Homo sapiens: one gene and its partners. The protein of the gene in region 1 purifies or fractionates together with the protein of each later gene. This does not show direct contact. Each region holds a gene or a part of one and is shown in the gene's direction. Other genes may lie near its edges.

What was found. Proteins that work in one complex are often made in the same cells at the same time.
Region 2: the proteins of EXOSC7 (region 1) and DIS3L purify together in Homo sapiens (affinity purification with mass spectrometry; 5 studies listed by BioGRID and IntAct, with this or other methods). This does not show direct contact.
Region 3: the proteins of EXOSC7 (region 1) and ZFC3H1 purify together in Homo sapiens (affinity purification with mass spectrometry; 3 studies listed by BioGRID and IntAct, with this or other methods). This does not show direct contact.

The regions. Positions count from the first base shown.
Region 1 is NC_000003.12:44,986,188-44,993,295, forward strand, and holds part of EXOSC7 (exosome complex component RRP42), read left to right. Parts: intron 1-2,952; coding exon 2,953-3,054; intron 3,055-3,362; coding exon 3,363-3,457; intron 3,458-7,108. UniProt on the Homo sapiens protein: Non-catalytic component of the RNA exosome complex which has 3'->5' exoribonuclease activity and participates in a multitude of cellular RNA processing and degradation events.
Region 2 is NC_000015.10:66,324,568-66,331,567, forward strand, and holds part of DIS3L (DIS3-like exonuclease 1), read left to right. Parts: intron 1-1,263; coding exon 1,264-1,797; intron 1,798-4,402; coding exon 4,403-4,557; intron 4,558-4,653; coding exon 4,654-4,832; intron 4,833-5,045; coding exon of another isoform or gene 5,046-5,057; exon of another isoform or gene 5,058-7,000. UniProt on the Homo sapiens protein: Catalytic component of the RNA exosome complex which has 3'->5' exoribonuclease activity and participates in a multitude of cellular RNA processing and degradation events.
Region 3 is NC_000012.12:71,660,849-71,667,882, reverse strand, and holds the start of ZFC3H1 (zinc finger C3H1 domain-containing protein), read left to right. Parts: upstream 1-4,034; 5' UTR 4,035-4,272; coding exon 4,273-4,870; intron 4,871-5,060; exon of another isoform or gene 5,061-7,034. Other genes in the region: THAP2 (THAP domain-containing protein 2), read right to left, coding at 3,303-3,373. UniProt on the Homo sapiens protein: Subunit of the trimeric poly(A) tail exosome targeting (PAXT) complex, a complex that directs a subset of long and polyadenylated poly(A) RNAs for exosomal degradation. The RNA exosome is fundamental for the degradation of RNA in eukaryotic nuclei.

The DNA.
Region 1 (7,108 bases):
TGGGGCCACACAGGAGCACCCATGGGTGGGGGTGGGAGGGCGGGGAGGCTCCCGCATGGCAGGCTGCAGATCCGGAGCCCTGCCCCGTGGGAAGGCAGCTAAGGCCCAGCAAGAAATTGAGCACAGCAGCTGCTGGCCCAGGTGCTAAGCCCCTCACTGCCTGGGGCCAGCTGGCTGCTCCAGAGTATGGGGCCCGCCTAGCCCACACCCACCCGCTGAGCCCATGCCCACCCAGAACTCGCGCTGGCCCGCAAGCACTGCCCGCAGCCCTGGTTCCCACCCACGCCTCTCCCTCCACACCTCCCAGCAAGCTGAGGGAGCCGGCTCCCACCTTGGCCAGCCCAGAAAGGGGCTCCCGCAGTGCAGCGGCGGGCTGAAGGGCTCCTCAAGTGCTGCCAAAGTGGGAGCCCAGGCAGAGGAGGTGCCGAGAGCAAGCGAGGGCTGTGAGGGCTGCCAGCACGCTGTCACCTCTCAATATCTTCCAGGGAGGAAAGGTGCTGGGGGAAGGATGGGCTGCACAGGACCTTCCACCTGATTTGTGATGTTTATTTTCTGTCATTGAAAAGTTAAACGGGTGAAAGACCTGAAGCAAGTATGGCAGAGGGTGATCATTGGTACTGTGTGGTGCTGCAGTGTTTTGCTTTTTTCTGTTTAATTTCTCAAAAAAGTCAGTCACATATGCAGTTAGCCAGGCAGTTTAAAGATAAACTGTCAGTCACATACTTTAGAGCAGTGTTTTATTTTATTTTTTATGTTTCTGGGAAGCATCAACTCCTTGGAGAATCTGATTAAGCTAATGATTCTTTTTCTGAAAAAAACTGCTTTTGAAAAATGTTTACAAAGAATGAGAAGGAGCTCCATGAGCCAACGTGGAATGATTTCCTGCATATATATAGTTAAGTGTTAAAAAAAAAAAAAAAAGTAAGAGTATCTATAGTATTCCACCCTTCATATAAGAAACAAGGAGATATTAAAAAATTCATGTATTTGCTTATTTGTGCAGAGAAAATACAAGAAAGATAAACCTGAAACTGAAGAGAAACCTAGGGTGAATGGGAAGAAAGGGGCATGAAAATAGCATAATACGGAGGAGAGTGACATTTCTCTGAGCATACTTTTCTGAGTTTTCTCTCAGAACTATAGTGATAGCTCACAAACTCAGAAAGTAAATAAGTAATTAAAAGTAACCATGATGTGGGGGAACCCAAAATGGAAAACAAAAATTTACAAATGAAAATTAGCCAGGCATGGTGATGTGCCTGTAATTCCAGCTACTTCAGAGGCTGAGGCGGGAGAAGCGCTTGAACGCAGGTGGCGGAGGTTGCAGTGAGCTGTGCCACACTGCACTCCAGCCTGGGCGACAGAGCCATAGTCTAAAAAAAAAGTTACAAGTTACAAATGAGCCTGTGTTACAAGTGAGTAATGTAACCACACTGAAGGGCACGTAGAAGAAAAGAACTGAAGTAACTGGAAAACAGTATTTTGCCTGGATACTCTGAGGCTAAAGACAGAACTTTACACAAATACTGTGTGCTATTAGTAAATTTGTTTCTCACAGGGGTATGGGTTAGAAGTTCAGAAACTGTGTATACTAAGATTGAACAAATACAGAAATACATGTTAGATAATAAGAGCCAGCTTTCTCCTTCTTTGAGAAAGAAGTTACAAATAAGAAACAGAGGAAGGTTAGAATGAACCATGTGATGTTAGATTGGAATTGATCTATCAGTATGAACTCTTGGCTTTTTAATAGATATGTAGATAGATACAGAATTAAACAGATTTGTGTGTGTGTGGTGGGGGTGGTTAGTATACATAACTGTATTTTCTAGCTCTGTCTGCTGAGAAGTTCTGGAAGAAATAATACTCCAACAGCAATGAACTTAGAGCCTAGTTCCTGGTTTTAAGTACCATTCCCCAATAAAAGCAACCAGGGCTCCTTGGAGAAAGGCTTGATCCCTAGGGCTGGGCAGAGAAGACACAAGAGGATAGATATCTTGTGTTGCAGAAAGTAGATAATTACTCAAAAAGTTGGAGGCATGTTGAAAGAGCACAAAAACTAACCCAAAGAAGCCCCCAGTGGCCAAATTTGGAACACTTTGAGCAGCAAAATAACTAATGATAGTAGTGGATTATAACCATAGCATAAAAGATACCAATGAGTTGTACTGATACAAGTAATTGAAGGAGTAAATAAATGGGCAGAAGGAACAGGCAGCGCGTAGACCACCCTGAAAACCATCTTCTGCCAAAAGAGTCAGCAAACTTCCTGTAAAGGACTGGATAGTAAAGATTTGGGGCCTTATGGGTCATATCTCTGGCCCAACCACTCAGCTCTGCTTTTGTAGTGCAGAAACAATCATAGACATTACCTAAACAAGTGGGCATGGCTATGTTCCAGTAAAACTTATTTACAAAAACAAGGGACCTTAGTTTGTTGACCCTGTTCTAGAGACTGCCTCTTTAGAAGATTAGGTGTCTTTCACTATTTACACAGTAGATCTTGTTGAGTTTTAGGGGTAGGAGGGCTTCAGTTGAGATGATTGTACTCTGTAGCTCTGACAACATATACTTCTTGGTGCAATTTAAGAATTGCAGATTTAGAGAGAGGTGGCTTATTTTGTCTCTTGTTCAGATCTTGTTTTTGTGTGCATATTCTATATAGTGGTATGTAGTATAGATTTTGCAATCAGACACAACTGGCATGGAAAACTAGCTTTGTTTTCACTAGCTGTAGGACCTTGGACAAGTCGCTCAACTTCTCTGAGTCTCCATTTCCTCATATGTAAAATAGTAATGTTGTTGTTAGCTACAAGGACAGAATTTTAGATGATCCACTAAGAGGAAAAGAGATATTCTGCATATATCTTCTCTAGGGGGAAAATGGGTGAGTCCGTTTAGGAGTTATTGTTGATCTGGGGTGACTATAGGACTGTGGTTGTTAACACCTAGGAAGACCTCCGTGTGGATGGCCGTGGCTGTGAGGACTACCGATGTGTCGAAGTGGAAACTGATGTGGTGTCCAACACTAGTGGGTCCGCCAGGGTCAAGCTGGTGAGTACTGTGACCATGGTTCAAGCCCAGGTGGAGAAATGAGTAGGCCCTAAGGAATGAGCTGCTGACGCTGTCTGGCTTTTGGAATGCAAATTGCTCTTGGGGAAATCGAAGATCCGAGCCAAACTCAGGGAGGGGGGGTCTATCCAGATCTGAAAAGACTGCTCACCTCCTCCAAAGACCACTTTCCAAGTCTTAGCACTGCTCCTAAAAGAGTCCCCCAGGGGTGTATGTCCAGAAGAGGAGGGAGGTGGTGGAGTACCTGGCTGCATACTCTGAGTGAGGACTCTTCTTGCATGTGTCTGCAGGGTCACACAGACATCTTGGTGGGAGTGAAAGCAGAAATGGGGACGCCGAAGCTGGAGAAACCAAATGAAGGCTACTTGGAGTTCTTTGTTGACTGGTCAGTACTGTCTATGCAGATATTTCTAAAGATAAATGATTTTAAAGATGAAGATTCAGAAAATGAACCTCTGGTTTGCTGTTGAACCCACTTTTATACTTATCATTCAGCCATCCAGCAGGCATTTGCTGACCTCCTCCTATGTGCCAGGTACATAGTCAGGACTCTTGGCTTGAGTCCTGCCCTAGTCTTAACCACCTGGCTATTGCTGGCCTTGTTTTCCCTGTCCGATAAAGGAGGACATTTGCCAGGCAGCCTAGCACATGATTGTGATGAGGGTCAAATGAAATGATTGTGTTATGGTGCTTTGAAAAATATACACAGTAAGGATCATTTGGTCTAAAATGTGCTGTTTCTCTTCCTACTCTAGTTCTGCAGAAAACTGTTCATGATTTGCTTGACAGATGAAGCCTAGGGTCAGCCAAGCAGCCTGACAGGCTGAGGAAGTGGCAGCTAGGCAGGCAGTATGGGTGCTGAGAAGAGAGAGGGCTCTGCAGTGTCTGCAGCCAGCCTTGGGCCAGAATGTCACTTCCTTCTCTGGCCAGCTTTGTGATCTCAGGCTGGTTACTCAGTCTCACTGTGGCCAAATTTCTTCATCTAAAAAATGAGGATAATAAATAATACCATGGTGATGAAGAGGAAATGAATAGAGTGAGTACCTAGCACAGTGACTGACTTCCAGTGGGCTTTCAATAAGTGTTATTTCTCCTTATTTTGTCAATAAGTTCAATAAGTATTATTAGCTCCACATTCTAGGGGTCGGGGCTTTTTATTTGGTTGCTGGCCAGGTCCCGTCTTCTATCAATTACTTTGCTTCTGGAAGCCAGGCCTTCTTGAAGTGGGTAAGGATCTCTGTGGGCTCATGCTGGGTGTAGGTATATAATGTTGACCCTGTATCAAGATCCCCAAGACCACCTCCACATTCAGAGATTTGCTAGACTTAGCATATAGTGATACTCACAGCTAAGGTTTATTACAGCAGTGAAAATGCAGTAACTTATTTGTGACATTTCTGCCCAGGAAAGCCCATTAGAGACTCAGCACCCAAGATTTTTACTGGGAGCTGGTCACATAGACACTCGATGCTTAATACATAATGAAGTTTTCTAAAGGAAAGCAAATGTTCAGCATAAATCATATTATTTGCACAATATAGGCACAGTGGACTACCCCCATCAGTTTACTATTGCCTGGGAGCCAGGTTCCCGGATGCCAGCCAAGGGCCAACCCTGCAAACAGACCCTTCTGAAAATAGCACCTTTGGACTGCAATGGCAGCCCTTTTTTGCACAAATGTTAACCCACTTTTGTAGGGTGAGTTACAGTCTTCCAGTCTGAACTTCCATACACGGAAGCTGATTCTCATAGTACTCGTATAAGAGAAATGACAAATGAGTTCAGAGAGAGTAAGTGACTACCCCAGGGTTACAAAGCTAAAAATGCCAGCTCAGGTCTGTCCAACCTGTGAATCTTTGCTCATTTTACTTCATGCAGCCTATGGAAGCCAGCTTTGGAGGGCTGCTCTTGGGGAGTCCAAGAACTATCCATGTTCATTTTTCTGGTCAGTTTTTTTTCCAGCCCATTCCTGTCCCCTACTCTGGTCCCCCAAGTCGTCTCTCCTGGTTCTGCTCATCTTCTCTCACCAGCCTGAGTTGTCCCATGGAATTGGCCCATCCTTTAAGTCACTGTGGATGATGGTGACCTTGTTCAAGCCCCCAACTTATCTTTTCCTTTGTTCTTGGAGGAAGCAGAATGCCTCTGGTGGCCTTGATCTGCCTAATTCAATGCAGTAAGCAGTCACTGAGGAGCAGACAATGTGTGAGGAACTGTAATTTGCTTTCTTTTTCATCTCCTTCATTACCTTCTACCTCATTCATTTTAGGCAGACCAAAGACATTCAGCCCAACCACACCAAAGAGAGGGTGTTGCCCTCAGATGCTTGGTATAGGGGATACGTTTCATTGTGGCTCTGTGTCTAAATATGACTCCAAGTTAGCCTGCTGCTCTTATCCCTTTCTTGTCCCAGCTGTAAAGGATGAGTGACTCTAGTGTGAGAGGATTCTTTGAGTTGCCTCTTCCCAAGATCTGGCTTCTAGAAGTAGCCTATCTTTCCTGGCTTAGAGTGGCTGCCTGCTGGTCTCTTTTCCTCCTCTGTGGGTCTCAAAAGGATCCCCACAGGCCCAAGAGCTCCAGTATCTAGGTAGTTCTCCTGAATTGATTTCTCAAGATGGACAGTCTCAAAGTGGCACACTTTACCTTCTTTAAGTGGCTCAGCTAATGTAATCAGCCGGGCAAGTAGAATCACCATGAGAGAGTCACAAAACCCCATTTCCTACAGAGATGGGAGAGGTTACCAAGCACTGATCGCTGCCACCTGTATCAGAACCTCAATTGAGTCTTCAAGGAGCATAATTATTTTAATTGCATAAACAAGTGTGTCCTTTTATTCTGAATCAGTGAATAGGAATGGCTTCTGGACACCCGTGGATGTGCCCAGCAATAAGGGTGCCACACACCCACTCCCACCTGGACTCCAGGCATAGGGCCTCTGCTGGAGAGCTCAAGGCATTTGCCTATCCACAGGCTGAAACATAGTTGCTGCCCAGTGGAAGGAAATAAATTGGTGGTGATGGTGGTGGTGATGGTGGTGAGGGTTTCTTCTGCTGCTCTGAGTCTAGTTTGATTTAACTTCTTGTTAGCAACTTCCAGTTTTAATTAAATTGCCAGGGGTAGAGAGGTCTCAGAAAACTAATTGATTTTCTGCCAACCCATTTCACTTGGTTTTGTCTACTTGGGATGATAATACATGGAGCCAAGATAGACACTGTCGCCACCTCCATAATTTACCCTGTTTCTTGGGAATGACGAAAAATCTTTGATATAGCCCTCACAGCCCTTTGGAAAGACTGCTGCACTGACCCTGAGCCCTGTTCCAGAGATGCCTGGCAGCACTGTCACTAAACTGGGAGCAAAATCTGACCTTTTCATGTCTTTGGTTTGCTGGTTGTAGCTGAGAGTAGGCTATTTTAAATGAGAATTTGGAAACTTTAGGAAAAGGTGGTTTCTATCTAAAGCCCAAAGGAAGGGAAGATTTTAGTGAGCTGGTGTGTCACCCTGCGCTGCCACTAGGCGGCGAGCCATCAAGTTGCTTCTCAGTTCTCCGACCATTGTGTTGATGGGTTTAGGACTGTGGTTTAACCTCTTAGAGAGGCTTGGGTTTTTAACTAGGGGAGTTTAGGAGAACATTTTTCATTCATAAATGTTTCAGAATACTCCGCACTTGTCACTTCCCTTTGGGATCTTAACTATTTTTCAATGTGAACACTTGTATTTTTCACTAAAATTGAACCAGAATCTTCAAGCCTGCATTGGTGGTTGGAGTCACTATATCTGGGTTCCTTGCCTGCTTAGTGCTGCTAAAGGGGACACTGTTCCTGGCTGAGGGGCTGGGGGTGGGTACAAAGCAGAGAGGCAACCTGCAGAAGCCTTTTGAGGCTAATTGTAATCAAAGTCTCCCAAGCTGATGAGATAACTCTCGCAGACACTTCAAACAAAGGCTTGTGATGAAAACCTCAGAATATACTTACTATTGGTCTGGTACCCATTTACAGGGAGGCTTCTACAGGCTCAGACATGAGCACATGTACACTCA
Region 2 (7,000 bases), on another chromosome or scaffold:
GATCAATATAATCAAATTGCCCTTCTTAAATGTTACACCAGTTATATTCCTGTCACCAATGTATGAGAGTGCATATTTTCCTATAGCCTTGCCAACACAATATGTTGTATTTTTTTATCTTTGCCAATTTGATAGATGAAAAATGGTATCTTAGATTGGTTTTAATTTGCATTACAAATAAAGCTAACCATTTTTTCGTATGTTTGTCACTTATGTATCCCTTTCTGTTAACTATATTCTTCGCCCATTTTTCTTTTGGATTCAAGATCAATTACTGATTAATTTGTAAAAGCTCTTTACATATTAGGAAAATTAGCCCTATGTTTTTTATGAGTTCCAAATGTATACCTTTTTTTTAAATAAAATGACTTGGTGGCAAAGAGTTTTTTTACTAAATGAAATTTTTGCTAATTTATCTGTCATCAAGATTGATATCACAGTTCAGTGCCATCCTGTAGGATTTGCAAGACTTTGCTCTAATTTACTGAGCTAAAAAGACTTGACTCTATCAGTGTCATGCTTTTCTAATCAAAATAGAGGACATGGCCGGGCACGGTGGCTCACGCCTATAATCCTAGCACTTCGGGAGGCCAAGGCAGGTGGATTGCCAGAGCTCAGGAGTTTGAGGCCAGCCTGGGCAACACAGTGAAACCCCGTCTCTACTAAAATAGAAAAAATTAGCCAGGCATGGTGGTGCACGCCTATAGTCCCAGCTACTCAGGTGGCTGAGGCAGGAGAATCACTTGAACCAGGAAGAGGTAGGTTGCAGTGAGCCGAGATCGCACCACTGCACTCCCACCTAGGCAACAGAGCAAGACTCCATCTCAAGAAAAAAATGGAGGACATAAAGTAAGGTTTGTAATGTCACATATGAACTCATTTCAAATTTGTTCAGAGCTCAACAGTCCCCAGTCTAACTTTGTTGTTTTAATTTAAAATATTTTTTGATTTAGTTGTAAGGTGGTTGGATTGACAAACCAGAAACCTGTAGCTTTGTAATTTCTTTTAAGTTACAGTTAGGTCAAATTCCACTTGCTTCAAAAATAGAAGACTTAGGTGGGGCATGGTGGCTTACACCTGTAATCGCAGCACTTTGGGCAGGAGAATTGCTCAAGTCCAGGAGATTGAGGCAGCAGTGAGCAGTGATCATGCCATTGCACTCCAGCCTGGGTGACAGAGCAAGATCCTGTCTCAAAAAAACAAAAAACAAAAAAAGCCAGATGAATTTGAATAGTGATGTTGTCAATGTTACTGTTTTTGTAGGTATGCTGTAAGCATCATGTGGGAACTGGATAAAGCCTCTTATGAAATTAAGAAAGTGTGGTATGGCAGAACCATTATTCGATCAGCATACAAACTGTTCTATGAAGCAGCCCAAGAACTACTGGATGGAAACTTAAGCGTTGTTGATGATATTCCAGAATTCAAAGACTTGGATGAGAAGAGCAGACAAGCCAAGCTGGAGGAGTTGGTGTGGGCAATTGGAAAGCTGACCGACATAGCTCGCCATGTCAGAGCTAAACGAGACGGATGTGGTGCCCTGGAACTGGAAGGGGTAGAGGTTTGCGTACAGCTAGATGACAAAAAGAACATTCACGACCTCATCCCCAAGCAGCCCCTGGAAGTCCACGAGACAGTGGCTGAATGCATGATCCTGGCCAACCACTGGGTCGCCAAAAAGATCTGGGAGAGCTTCCCTCATCAGGCCTTGCTGCGCCAGCACCCTCCTCCACACCAGGAGTTCTTTTCAGAACTCCGGGAATGTGCTAAAGCCAAAGGCTTCTTCATAGATACACGGTATTCCTCTTTTGAGGGGGCAGAGGAATGGAGTGGCATGCTGTATATTTAGTTATCTTACAGTTGTTCTTAAAATGTGACAGCCAGATCTTTGACCAAAAAGAGAAAACAGATTCTTGGCTCTCCTCATTTTTGAAGACACATTTTTCCCTCTTCATTGTTATGTATAGAGACTTAAAACAAGTTTATTTAGGCATAATTTTGTTCCTTGGTTTTTTGTTTCAATTTTTTTTTAGATAGAGTCTTGCTCTGTCACCCAGGTTGGAGTACAGTGGTATGATCTCGGCTCACTGCAACCACCACCTCCCAGGTTCAAGTGACTCTCCTGCCTCAGGTTCCTGAGTAGCTGGGACTACAGGCACACGCCACCATGCCTGGCTAATTTTTTTGTATTTTTAGTAGAGACAGGGTTTCGCCATGTTGGCTAGGCTGGTCTTGAACTCCTGACCTCAAGTGATCCACCTGCCTCGGCCTCCCAAACTGCTGGGATTATAGGCATGAGCCACCACACTGGACATTTAGGCATAATTTTGACCCACTACAATTTGGGTTTTTTTGTTCGGTTGGTTTTTTTTTTTTCTTTGAGATAGAGTCTCGCTCTGTCATCCAGGCTGGAGTGCAGTGGCACAATCTTGGCTCACTGCAACCTCCGCCTCCCAGGTTCAAGCGATTCTCTTGACTCAGCCTCCTGAGTATATGGGATTACAAGCATGTGCCACCACGCCTGGCTAATTTTTGTATTTTTAGTAGAGACAGGGTTTCACCATGTTGGTCAGGTTGGTCTCAAACTCCTGACCTCATGATTCGCCCGTCTCGGTCTCCCAAAGTGCTGGGATTATAGGCATGAGCCACTGTGTGTGGCTGACCCACCATAATTTGTAATACAGAAGTAGGGAACCTGTTAGTTACCCTTGATTTAATTTCATGTACCCCTTAAGTTACAAAGAAATAATCCTATTTATTTCAGTACTTTTAAAATGCAGCATCTTTGTGACAATATCATAAGATACTACACCAACAGTGAATTTATACCACCCTCAATTGAGTGAGACATTTTTACTCCCTATCTCTAGGATAAAATACTTCTTTCATTAAAAACCAAGTATAGGCAGGCTGGGCACAGTGGCTCATGCCTGTAATCCCAGTACTTTGGGAGGCCGAGGCGGGCAGATCACGAGGTCAGGAGATCGAGACCATTCTGGCTAACACGGTGAAACCCCATCTCCACTAAAAATACAAAAAATTAGCCAGGTGCTGTAATCCCAGCTACTTGGGAGGTTGAGGCAGGAGAATGGCATGAACCCGGGAGGCGGAGGTTGCAGTGACCCAAAATCGCACCACTGCACTCCAGCCTGGGTGACAGAGCGAGACTCTGTCTCAAAAATAAATAAATAAATAAATAAAAACTAAGTATAGGCTGGGTACAGTGGCTCACACCTGTAATCCTAGCACTTTGGGAGGCTGAGGCAGGCACATCACTGAGGTCAGGAGTTCAAGACCAGCCTTGCCAACATGATGAAACTCTCTCTGCTAAAAATACAACGAGCCAGGCATGGCGCACTCTTGTAATCCCAGCTACTCAGAGGCTGAGGTGCGAGAATCGCTTGAACCTGGGAGGCAGAAGTTGCAGTGAGCCAAGATTGTGCCACTACACTCCAGCCTCTGTATGGTCACTGTATGAGCTGTCTGCATGCCAGGCACATGGGACAAGGGCTTTCAGACATCCTCTTGGTTAATTCTTAATGCTGAGGTGATGGCAGCATCATTCATATTTACAGATAAGTCAATTAAGTCTGAAGAGATTAAGTAATTTGCCTGTAATTTAACAGTCAGGGCAGAGCCAAGATTTGAATCCAAGTCTGTTAAACTTGCAAGCTCACATAGTGACCACTTAACACCTTGCCTCTCTGTTCATCATCATGCTCTATTTCTCCTTTCCCCCTTTTCCCTTAGCCAGCCACAATATAGGACTGAATTATATGTTATTAGTTTTATTTTTAATATACCTCTATATTTCCTGGGGCTTTGAAATTATTATTTTGAGGCTGTATGCAGTGGCTCACACCTGTAACCCCAGCACTTTGGGAGGCCGAGGCAGGAGGATCACTGAAGGCCAGGAGTTCAAGACTAGCCTGGGCAACAAAGTGAGACCCTGTCTCTACAAAAAAATTATTTTGAGAATAAATAAATAGAATGCTTACTACCTCTTTAAAAAAGAAAAACTAATTTAGGTTTCTTTTACTTGTACACCAAGTCCATTATTTTACCTATATATAGAATGTTTAAGGTTAAGGATGTAAAGAATTCAATTCAACGAGTATTTGACCACCTATTATAGCCAAGCACTAACTTAACCTAGTATTAAAATCAGTACATGATTCATTTCTACTTAAGAAATGTATTTAAATTCTGACACTCTTGTTTTGTTTAAGCCGTAAAGCAAACTAGATTTCTGTAGTTGAAAAGAGGTGCTTCTGAAACGTGTCCAAAACAAATTTACTGGCAGATGAAGGTATTCAGACGGATGAGTGAAGGGTTCCCCTCAAAGTGTTGTCTTGTAAATTACTGTCTGGGACTAGCTAACGGTTTTTCTGTTCTTTGTCAGGTCCAATAAAACACTGGCTGATTCTCTGGATAATGCGAACGACCCCCACGATCCCATTGTGAACAGGCTACTGCGCTCCATGGCCACGCAGGCCATGTCGAATGCTCTGTACTTCTCCACCGGATCCTGTGCGGAGGAGGAGTTCCATCATTACGGTGAATCATACCATATTCCTATGTGTGGCTGTAACTTTGCGCTAGTTATTTTAAAATAGTTTTTGTTTATTTTGATCTTTTGCTTTCTTTTTGAAGGTCTTGCATTAGATAAATATACCCACTTTACTTCTCCAATAAGAAGATATTCAGATATTGTAGTACACCGCTTGTTAATGGCAGCCATTTCAAAAGATAAGAAAATGGAAATTAAGGGAAATCTGTTCAGCAACAAAGATCTTGAGGAATTATGCAGACATATCAACAACAGAAACCAAGTAAGAGGGAATTTCAAAATTCTCTTACCTGTCATCTCTTGCTAAGAAAATATCAGCTTTATTGTGTAGTACCGTGAAGTATCATATATTCTAGCAAATTAAATTCTAGAATTATTCTAACCAGTGCTTTCAGAACATTTGTAGATGTTCTCAGGTAACTTGTGGATTTGGGAGATTTGACGGTAGATTATCAGATTTTTTTTTTTCCGAAAGGTGGAAATGTAAAGATTCAAGCAACGCATAAAGATATGATGACAGAGGCCAGACGTGGTGGCTCACTTGAGGGCGGATCACTTGAGGTCAGGAATTTGAGACCAGCCTGGCCAATATGGTGAAACCCCATCTCTACAAAAAATACAAAAATTAGCCGGGTGTGATGGCACGCGCCTGTAGTCCCAGTTACTTGGGAGGCTGAGGCAGGAGAATCTCTTGAACCCAGGAGGTGGAGATTGCAGTGGGCCGAGATCACACCACTGCACTCTAGCCTGGGTGACAAAATTGAGACTGTGTCTCAAAAAAAAAAAAAGATATGAAGACAGAAACATCACCTGTTATCTTACCACCCAGAGCTAACAATTAATGATTCTAGACACTGCTAACATTTTTATTTATAAAAATATCGGCCAGATGCGGTGGCTTGCACCTGTATTCCCAGTACTTTGGGAGGCTGAGGCAGGTGGATCACGAGGTCAGGAGATCGAGACCATCCGGGCTAACACAGTGAAACCCCATCTCTACTAAAAATACAAAAAATTAGCATGGTGGCAGGCGCCTGTAGTCCCAGCTACTCAGGAGGCTGAGGCAGGAGAATGGTGTGAACCCGGGAGGCGGAGCTTGCAGTGAGCTGAGATTGCACCACTGCACTCTGGCCTGGGTGACAGAGCGAAACTCCGTCTAAAAAAAAAAAATCACACCGTGCCTGCTGTTTGAATCTGCTTTTTTCATGTAACCCAACTGTTATTGATAGCACACCATGTTATATCATTGTTTTGAAGCTGCTTTCTATTCTATTTCATATTACTAGTTGCTACAAGATTGCACAGCATAGAACTAGACTATTGGGTAACGCAGGAAATTGGAAACTACCTAAATGTTTAATGTAATTTTCTATATCCAATGGTATAGTTGTCTGCTGTGCAATGTTGTAGCACTAGCCATGTGGACTACCTAAATTTAATTAAAATTAGAAGTAGAAATTTGTCTCAGTAGAAATTTGGCCAGTGTCTCAGTCACACTGGCCACATTGTATAGCTCAGTGGCCACTTGTGGTTAGTGGCTACATATTAGGCAACACAGATAGAGAGCATTTCTATCATTGCAGAAAGTTCTGTTGGGCAGCACTGTTCTAAGCAATCAAATTTATAACCATCCTTATGGATACACTTATACAGACATTTCAGATGATTTCCTGGAAAAATTCCTAGAAATGGAATTGCTGAGCCAAAAGGTGTGCATGCACAAATGAAACTGATAGGTCAGGTGCAGTGGCTCACGACTGTAATCCTAGCACTTTTCGAGGTCGAGGCCGGTGGATCACCTGAGTTCAGGAGTTCCAGAGCAGCCTGGCCAACATGGTGAAACCCCGTTACTACTAAAAATACAAAAATTAGCCAGGCATGGTGGTGCATGCCTGTAATCCCAGCTAATCGGGCGGCTGAGGCAGGAGAATCACTTGAACCCGGGAGGCAGAGGTTGCAGGGAGCCAAGATCGCGCCATTGCACTCCAGCCTAGGCGATAGAGTGAGACTCCATCTCAAAAAGAAGACAAAGAAACTTTAATACATATTACTAAATTGTCTTCCTTATCAGTAGTGCTAATTTAGACTTCCACCAATAGGGTTTTCATTGGACAGGCTTGAAAAGAAAGAAAGGCTGGCCGGGCGCGGTGGCTCATGCCTGTAATCCCAGCACTTTGGGAGGCCGAGGCAGGCGGATCACGAGGTCAGGAGATCAAGACCATCCTGGCTAACACAGTGAAACCCCATTTCTACTAAAAATACAAAAAATTACCCGGGCGTGATGGCAGGCGCCTGTAGTCCCAGCTACTCCAGAGGCTGAGGCAGGAGAATGACGTGAACCCAGGAGGTAGAGCTTGCAGTGAGCCGAGATTGCACCACTGTACTCCAGCCTGGGTGACAGAGTGAGACTCCATATCTCAAAAAAAAAAA
Region 3 (7,034 bases), on another chromosome or scaffold:
TGTATGGTGGAAATACTAAAATAGTGTGAAACTGCACATCTCTTTCCAACTCCATAATCAGTGATGTCATATTGATAGCTTGAAACTAGACTTGGTAGTAGTATTTACATCATAGAAGGTGGGGAAACACTACAAATCAGGGCTTTTCCCCCTCCCTAGAGAACATTTATTAAATATTTAGCAACATACTATTGATTACAGAAGAGTGCCTAGGAGTGCATGGATGGAAGCAGTGAGCCAGTTAAGAGCCTACTGTAATAATCTAATCAAGGGGTAATGGTGAGAAGTCAAGGGAGGAAGACTTCCAAGTTTCCAGATGGGTAGATCTTCATTTACTGAGAAGCAGAGTACAGGAAGTGGGGGTAAGTTTGGGGAAGGGCAGTTTGTTAATATAGATAATGAATCTGGGTAACTAAAAGGAGACCAGAGAAATACTGAGTAGACACTTGGCCTATAGGTCTGGAACTCATTAGACAGAGATGGACTGGAGATACTGATTTGGGAGGCATCAACAAGTAGATGCTGAGACCACAGAACAGCTGAAATTATTCTGATACGAATGTGAAGACCTGGCTTAAGGAGTAGAGAGAAGAGTAGCAAAAGAGATTGAAGACAGGCCAAAAAAGTCAGAAGATAATCATAAAATTAGTGTCATAGAGAGTATTTCATGGAGGAAATGATCACATACCATGAAAAATGAATGTAGAGAGACATTAAGGTCATGTTAGCAAGAGCAATTTCAGAAGATTACTGGGGAGACTTAAGACTTGAGTTGGCTAAGAGGTAAGAAAGATAGAGACAGTAAGTTTAGGCAAAATAACTTGCACATAGAGATACAGAAGTCTACTAATGGCCAGGCGTGGTGGCTTACGCCTGTAATCCCAACACTTTGGGAGGCCGAGGCAGGTGGATCACAAGGTCAGGAGTTCGAGACCAGCCTGGCCAATATGGTGAAACCCCATCTCTTCTAAAAAATATAAAAATTAGCCAGGCATGTGGGCATGCCTGTAGTCCCAGCTATTCGGGAGGCTGAGGCAGGAGAATTGCTGGAACCCAGGAGGTGGAGGTTGCAGTGAGCGAAGATCACACCATTGCACTCCAGCCTGGGTGACAGAATGAGACTCTGTCTCAAAAAGAAAAAGAAAAAGAAAAAAAAGTCTACTAATGTCCCAGTAGAAAAGGAGTGAATCAATTAATCCTTGTTTGTATTTACAAAATAGGAATGTATTTTTATTATAATGAATACTATTTTAAGACCTAAATTTCTGAGGTTACACATGAAAATGTTAAATTCATAGTAGGCAAATTTTATGCATGTTATTGTACCACCATCCATCTCTTTTTTTTTGTTTTGTTTTTTGTTTTTTCTTGAGACAGGGTCTCACTGTATTGCCCAGGCTGGAGTACAGTGGCATGATTATGGCTCAGTGCAGCCTTAACTTCCCCAGTTCAGGTAGTCCTCCCACCTCAGCCTCCGGAGTAGCTGGGACTACAGGCATGCGTCACCAGGGCCAGCTGATTTTTTTGTATTTTTTTGTAGAGACGAGGTTTCACCATGTTGCCTAGGCTGGTCTCAAACTCCTGGGCTCAAGTGATCAGCCCGCCCTGGCCTCTCGAAGTGCTGGGATTACAGGTGTGAGCCACCACACTGGGTTAAACATTGTTATTGGTGTCTGGACTCCCCTCTCTCATCTATCCAATCAAATTACTAAATTCAGTAGTTTCTCCTTGAACATTTCTCCAATCTGTCCCCTCCTCTCCATTTCTACTCTAATATCACCCTAGTCTAGAAATTTGGGTGGACTTTCCTTGTTTTATTTACTACAGCTTCCTAACTAGTTTTTCTCTGTCAGCTCACACATTCCCTAATTCAATGCTGATTGTGCCAGCAACTGAGTAAAGGGTTTAGTTTAGTTGACATTGTAGCAAGATTTCCCTGTGAAGGAAAAAAATAGGTAAATTAATATTCTGTAATAAGTTCCTTTCTCATCAAGTTCATTCCCGATGATGCTTGACCAGCACTTTCAGTAACACTACGATTCTCTACACTGCAGCCAGAGGACTTTTCAATATGCAAATCTAATCGTGCCATTCTTTTTTAAACCCTCCATGGTTTCTCAAGTACTCTTAGGATAAAACAGAAAATACTTAAGTAGCACACAGGACCCAATCTGTCATCCTTTGGTCTCATTTGAAATGTCACATCCTTTGAAAAAGTGTTCTTTGACTTTCCAAGACTAAGTTAGGTCTCTGAATGTTTCTTCTGTGGCACTTAATTATTTATGTCTTTCTCCACCATTAAATTCTAAATTCCAGGAGGGTTAGAACTTTCTGGATCCTTAGCACAATGTCAGGTAATTAGGAACTCCGTACATATTTGATGGATGAATGAACAAAGCACTACATATGCATGAACTAGTTTAAAAACAGAAACATCACAAGATTTTTTTTAAGTGGCAGCTTTTAATAAAAGTACAGTTCGTAATAGGTAGGGAAAAAGGTCAAGGATATAATTTCTACATACTAACATATACGTTGTTAGGTATATAAAATATATAAAATCAGGACTGGTGTCACTTAACTTTTTAATGTGTCTTTTCTTCGGGCACGTGGCAGGCACTTGCAGAGAAGGTAAACATTTACAGAGTACCTGTTATTTTCCAGGCATTGTTCAAAGTGCTTTCAAGAGTTCTGGTTTGACAGAACTAAAGAATTTTGATTTTTCTTCCAGCAAACAAAAGAAAACCTAGGTTCTTTTTATTACTCTATTCTAGTAAGAACAGAAAGGTTATCTTTTGCACTTTAATTAACATCGCTTAATTCCATGGCTATCAAAGATGACTCAATTCCTCCGCAGAATTACTATGTGACTATTAGAAATCTAAATGCCTCCCATGTCAATTCATCTAGTGAGAATTTCCTAATTTTAACGGGAACACAGCAGGCTTTTACGGTGATTGCTGATTGGGAAGATCTCTTTCTCCCTTACGGCGTCATTCATGTCAAGGCCCGGTCTAACAGAGGAATAAAACAGTAGAAAATTACGATATCCTCCTGTTACTTTTTTTTACTAAGGGGTAATGACCAAACAGTACTTGGATTTCTTTTAGAAAATGAGTAAAGCTTCCCCGAAAGCAGAGAACAATTGGGCAGATTTGAGAAACACAAAGGACATACGATGCTTCCCTGCTACCAGCTGGGAAAGTTATTAGAATTAGCAGAATCCTCCTGTTCCTTCCACACAAGCGATAGCCACAATAGGAACTCCAGTTTCCGTCACCCCCACTCCCTGCCCAGGTTACCTGTGGAAGCTGATGTTAATGTGCTTGTTGTAGGTAGTGGCACAGCCCGCCGCAGCGCAATTGGTCGGCATTTCCCTTTCCCACTCATTCAGCGCCCTTAGGTCTCTACTGAGGCGCTGGCTGCTAAGCTTTCTTCTGGCAGAGGCTGGACAATCGAGGCAGGCGTGCCTTAATCGTGAGAGCTTAGTCGTGAGAGCGGAGTGGGAAGAAGGGGTGTGTATGTGGGGGCGGAGGCGAAGGACGGTCAGCCTTCCCTTTCTCTTTATTAATATGGCCGACTAGAGCCCACAGAACTGGCCCTCCTGGAGCTCTAGTCGCCTTCGCTTGACTTCACCAACATGGCGGACACAACCCGTTCTTTCTCCCCGCCCCCAAGAGGGAGCGGATCTACTGCGTTTCTTTGGCAGCGGTCCTCAGAGCAATTAAAAGGAAGAGGTGTTTTCCCCTCCGATTACTATAAATTACAAGAGTTTTACAATAAAACTCTCTCAAGGCTGCAACAGCAGCTCCACCTACTTCTGCATGCACCCAACTGTACCAAGCCAGACCCTGCGGTGGGTGTGACCCTAGGACCGGAAGAGTAAACCCGAAGAAAGACGAAAGACTACAAATCCTAGTGAGTATCGAGTTGGTCTTATTATCGCGTGAACTGGGAGCCTTTGTTTCCTGCGTGTCGCAGGAAGTGACGTTTCGGGTACAGCCGCTACCAGAGTCCCTTTCTCGCGAGGCGGAAGAACCCCGATCGCTGAGGAGCAAGGGGGCGCTAGGAAAGGGAACTGGGTTGCGACGGTCCGGCGAGAGAGAGCTGGGGTGCTGGGGTGCGGGGAAGTTGGGGAGCAGAGGCCGCTTGGTGTCCGAGTAGGGTAAGACCGCACCGACCCAGTCCGTTAGGAAAGAAGGGAAACGAGGCAATTGTCGGGCGGATCCCCGGACGGAGGGCTAAGGTTGTGTGGAAGGCGCTGCTCCCCGGATGGCGACCGCAGATACTCCGGCCCCGGCCTCCAGTGGCCTCTCGCCGAAGGAAGAAGGGGAGCTTGAAGATGGGGAAATCAGTGACGACGATAATAACAGCCAGATACGGAGTCGGAGCAGCAGCAGCAGCAGCGGCGGCGGGCTGTTACCCTATCCGCGGCGAAGGCCTCCTCACTCGGCCCGGGGCGGTGGATCTGGCGGAGGCGGTGGCTCTTCCTCGTCATCGTCCTCTTCTCAGCAGCAGCTGAGGAATTTCTCACGCTCGCGGCACGCGTCTGAGCGGGGCCACCTCAGGGGACCCAGCAGCTACCGACCCAAAGAACCGTTCCGGTCTCATCCGCCTTCTGTACGGATGCCTTCGAGCTCACTGTCCGAAAGCAGTCCCCGGCCGTCTTTCTGGGAGCGGAGCCACCTCGCCTTGGACCGTTTCCGCTTTCGAGGCAGGCCTTACCGGGGTGGGAGTCGCTGGAGTCGGGGGCGAGGAGTGGGTGAGCGAGGAGGCAAGCCGGGGTGCAGACCTCCTCTGGGAGGAGGAGCAGGATCCGGGTTCAGCAGCAGTCAGAGCTGGCGAGAGCCCTCTCCACCTCGGAAGAGCTGTATCCTTAACGTGGCGGTCGGCGCTGGGTGTGTCACTAAAGTTCCCTTTAGCGTCATTACTAGGTCTGTGAGACGAGTGTAACTTTGAATCATCAGAACCGCTTATTTCTCCCTGTGTCAGTATACTTTAAGTTGTTCTTTGGTAATTCCCCATGTGTCACACTATAGCGTTATTCTTAAGACTGCTTCATTGGGTATATTAACGTGCTGTGGATTGGGTTAAGCTTATGAAATCTAAGACAGTTAAGTCTGATTTGTAATAATACCTTAGAAGCCCAAGTTTCATTAGCATTTGTATTTTTGCTGGTACAGAAACTTTGTGTTTTATATGAAGTTGACTTGGATTGTTAGAGAAAAAATATTCATAAACAGTTTAAGTAATATTGTTGCTTTATCATATTGCAGTTTGACGTTGAAAATTGTAAAGTTTTAATCTGCACAGTCCTGCACTATTTTTGTGATTCTGTTTTTATCTTGATTTATTCCGGTTGCTGCCTTTTAAAGTGGGGGGGGGAGGGGTAAAAAAAAAACAACTCTGGTGTCTTTACCAAGTCTGTTTCAGAGCTTTTTGATTCATTTGATCTTTTTGGAACACTTTACCTCCTTTACGTTTCTATCTGTGTTCACTTTTGCACATTGTGTAACTTCGTGCTGACTAAATGAGGGCCAGAGAGAGAAAGATAAACTTATCAGCATTTTTATTTTAATACGTTAGAGTGGAGGAATGTGTATGCGAGGGTGGAGATTACGGGTAAGTTGAGAAAGGAAATAGTAACATTCCAGATTTTTCCTACTTCTAACCTTATTCTCAGTTTTAAACATTACTGAGTTTACTCAGCATTTATACAGAGGAATCAATCATCCGAAGGTTTCCTGTTTTATAATGGGTTTGTAAAACACTATCTTGACTTAATCTGTGATCATTGCAAAAATTGTTTAAAGACTTTCATTACTGGTTGTAATTCACATAGTGTGATGATTTTTAATTTCGTTATTATATATGAAACTTAAAAGTAATGACAGTTATTTGGAAGACAATCAGAATTACTTTTATAGAACACTTAGGTCCAGAATAGGTCTTTCTCAAATGTCATGATGTAAAAGGGGCAAGGAATGTACATTTAGGTGAGAAACAGCAGCTTCTGATGCTAGTTCCCTGAAAAACCTTACTTCTGCAACCAAAAGTTGGGTTAGGAGTATTTCAGGATTGTTTCGGAGAAAATCATGTAGGCGCCAGGCGTGGTGGCTCACGCCTGTAATCCCAACACTTTGAGAGGCCGAGGCGGTGGATCACTTGAGATCAGGAGTTCCAGACCAGCTTGGCCAACATGGTGAAACCTTGTCTCTACTAAAAATAAAAAAGTTAGCCAGGCGTGGTGTTGGGTGCTTGTATTTCCAGCTACCCGGGAGGCTGAGGCAGGAGAACCGATTGAACTCGGGAGGCAGAGTTGTAGTGAGCAGAGATTGCACCACTGCACTCCATCCTGGGCGGTAAAGCGAGACTCCGTTTCAAAAAAAAAAAAAAAAGGAAAATTATATAGATATTTAACTTTTTAAAAGCCAGCAAATGGTTCTTCCAAGAAGGTTAGAAAACCTCTGCCCACGGTGTTTCTTAATCCATGGATTTGTGGTCTATTTTGAATCCAAAAGCCAGAAAGGCTATTTAAGCATATATATGTGTATGGTTTTTATTTATTTATTTATTTATTTTTGAGACAGAGTCTCGCTCTGTCGCCCAGGCTGGAGTGCAGTGGTGTGATCTCGGCTCACTGCAAGCTCCGCCTCCCGGGTTCACGCCATTCGGCCTCAGTCTCCCGAGTAGCTGGGACTACAGGCGCCCGCCACCACGCCCGGCTAATTTTTTATATTTTTAGTAGAGACAGGGTTTCATCATGTTAGCCAGGATGGTCTCGATCTCCTGACTCCGTGATCCGCCCACCTCGGCCTCCCAAAGTGCTGGGATTACAGGCATGAGCCACCGTGCCCAGCCAATGTGGATGGTTTTTAAATTTTTTTAATTAAAAAAAATTTTTATTAAATTTATTTAAAAAAATTTTTTTTTGGGGAGACGAAGTCTTGCTATGTTGCCCAGGCTGATCTTGAACTTGTAGCTTCAAGAGATCCTCCTTCCTTAGACTCCCAAAGTGCTGGGATTTATAGGCG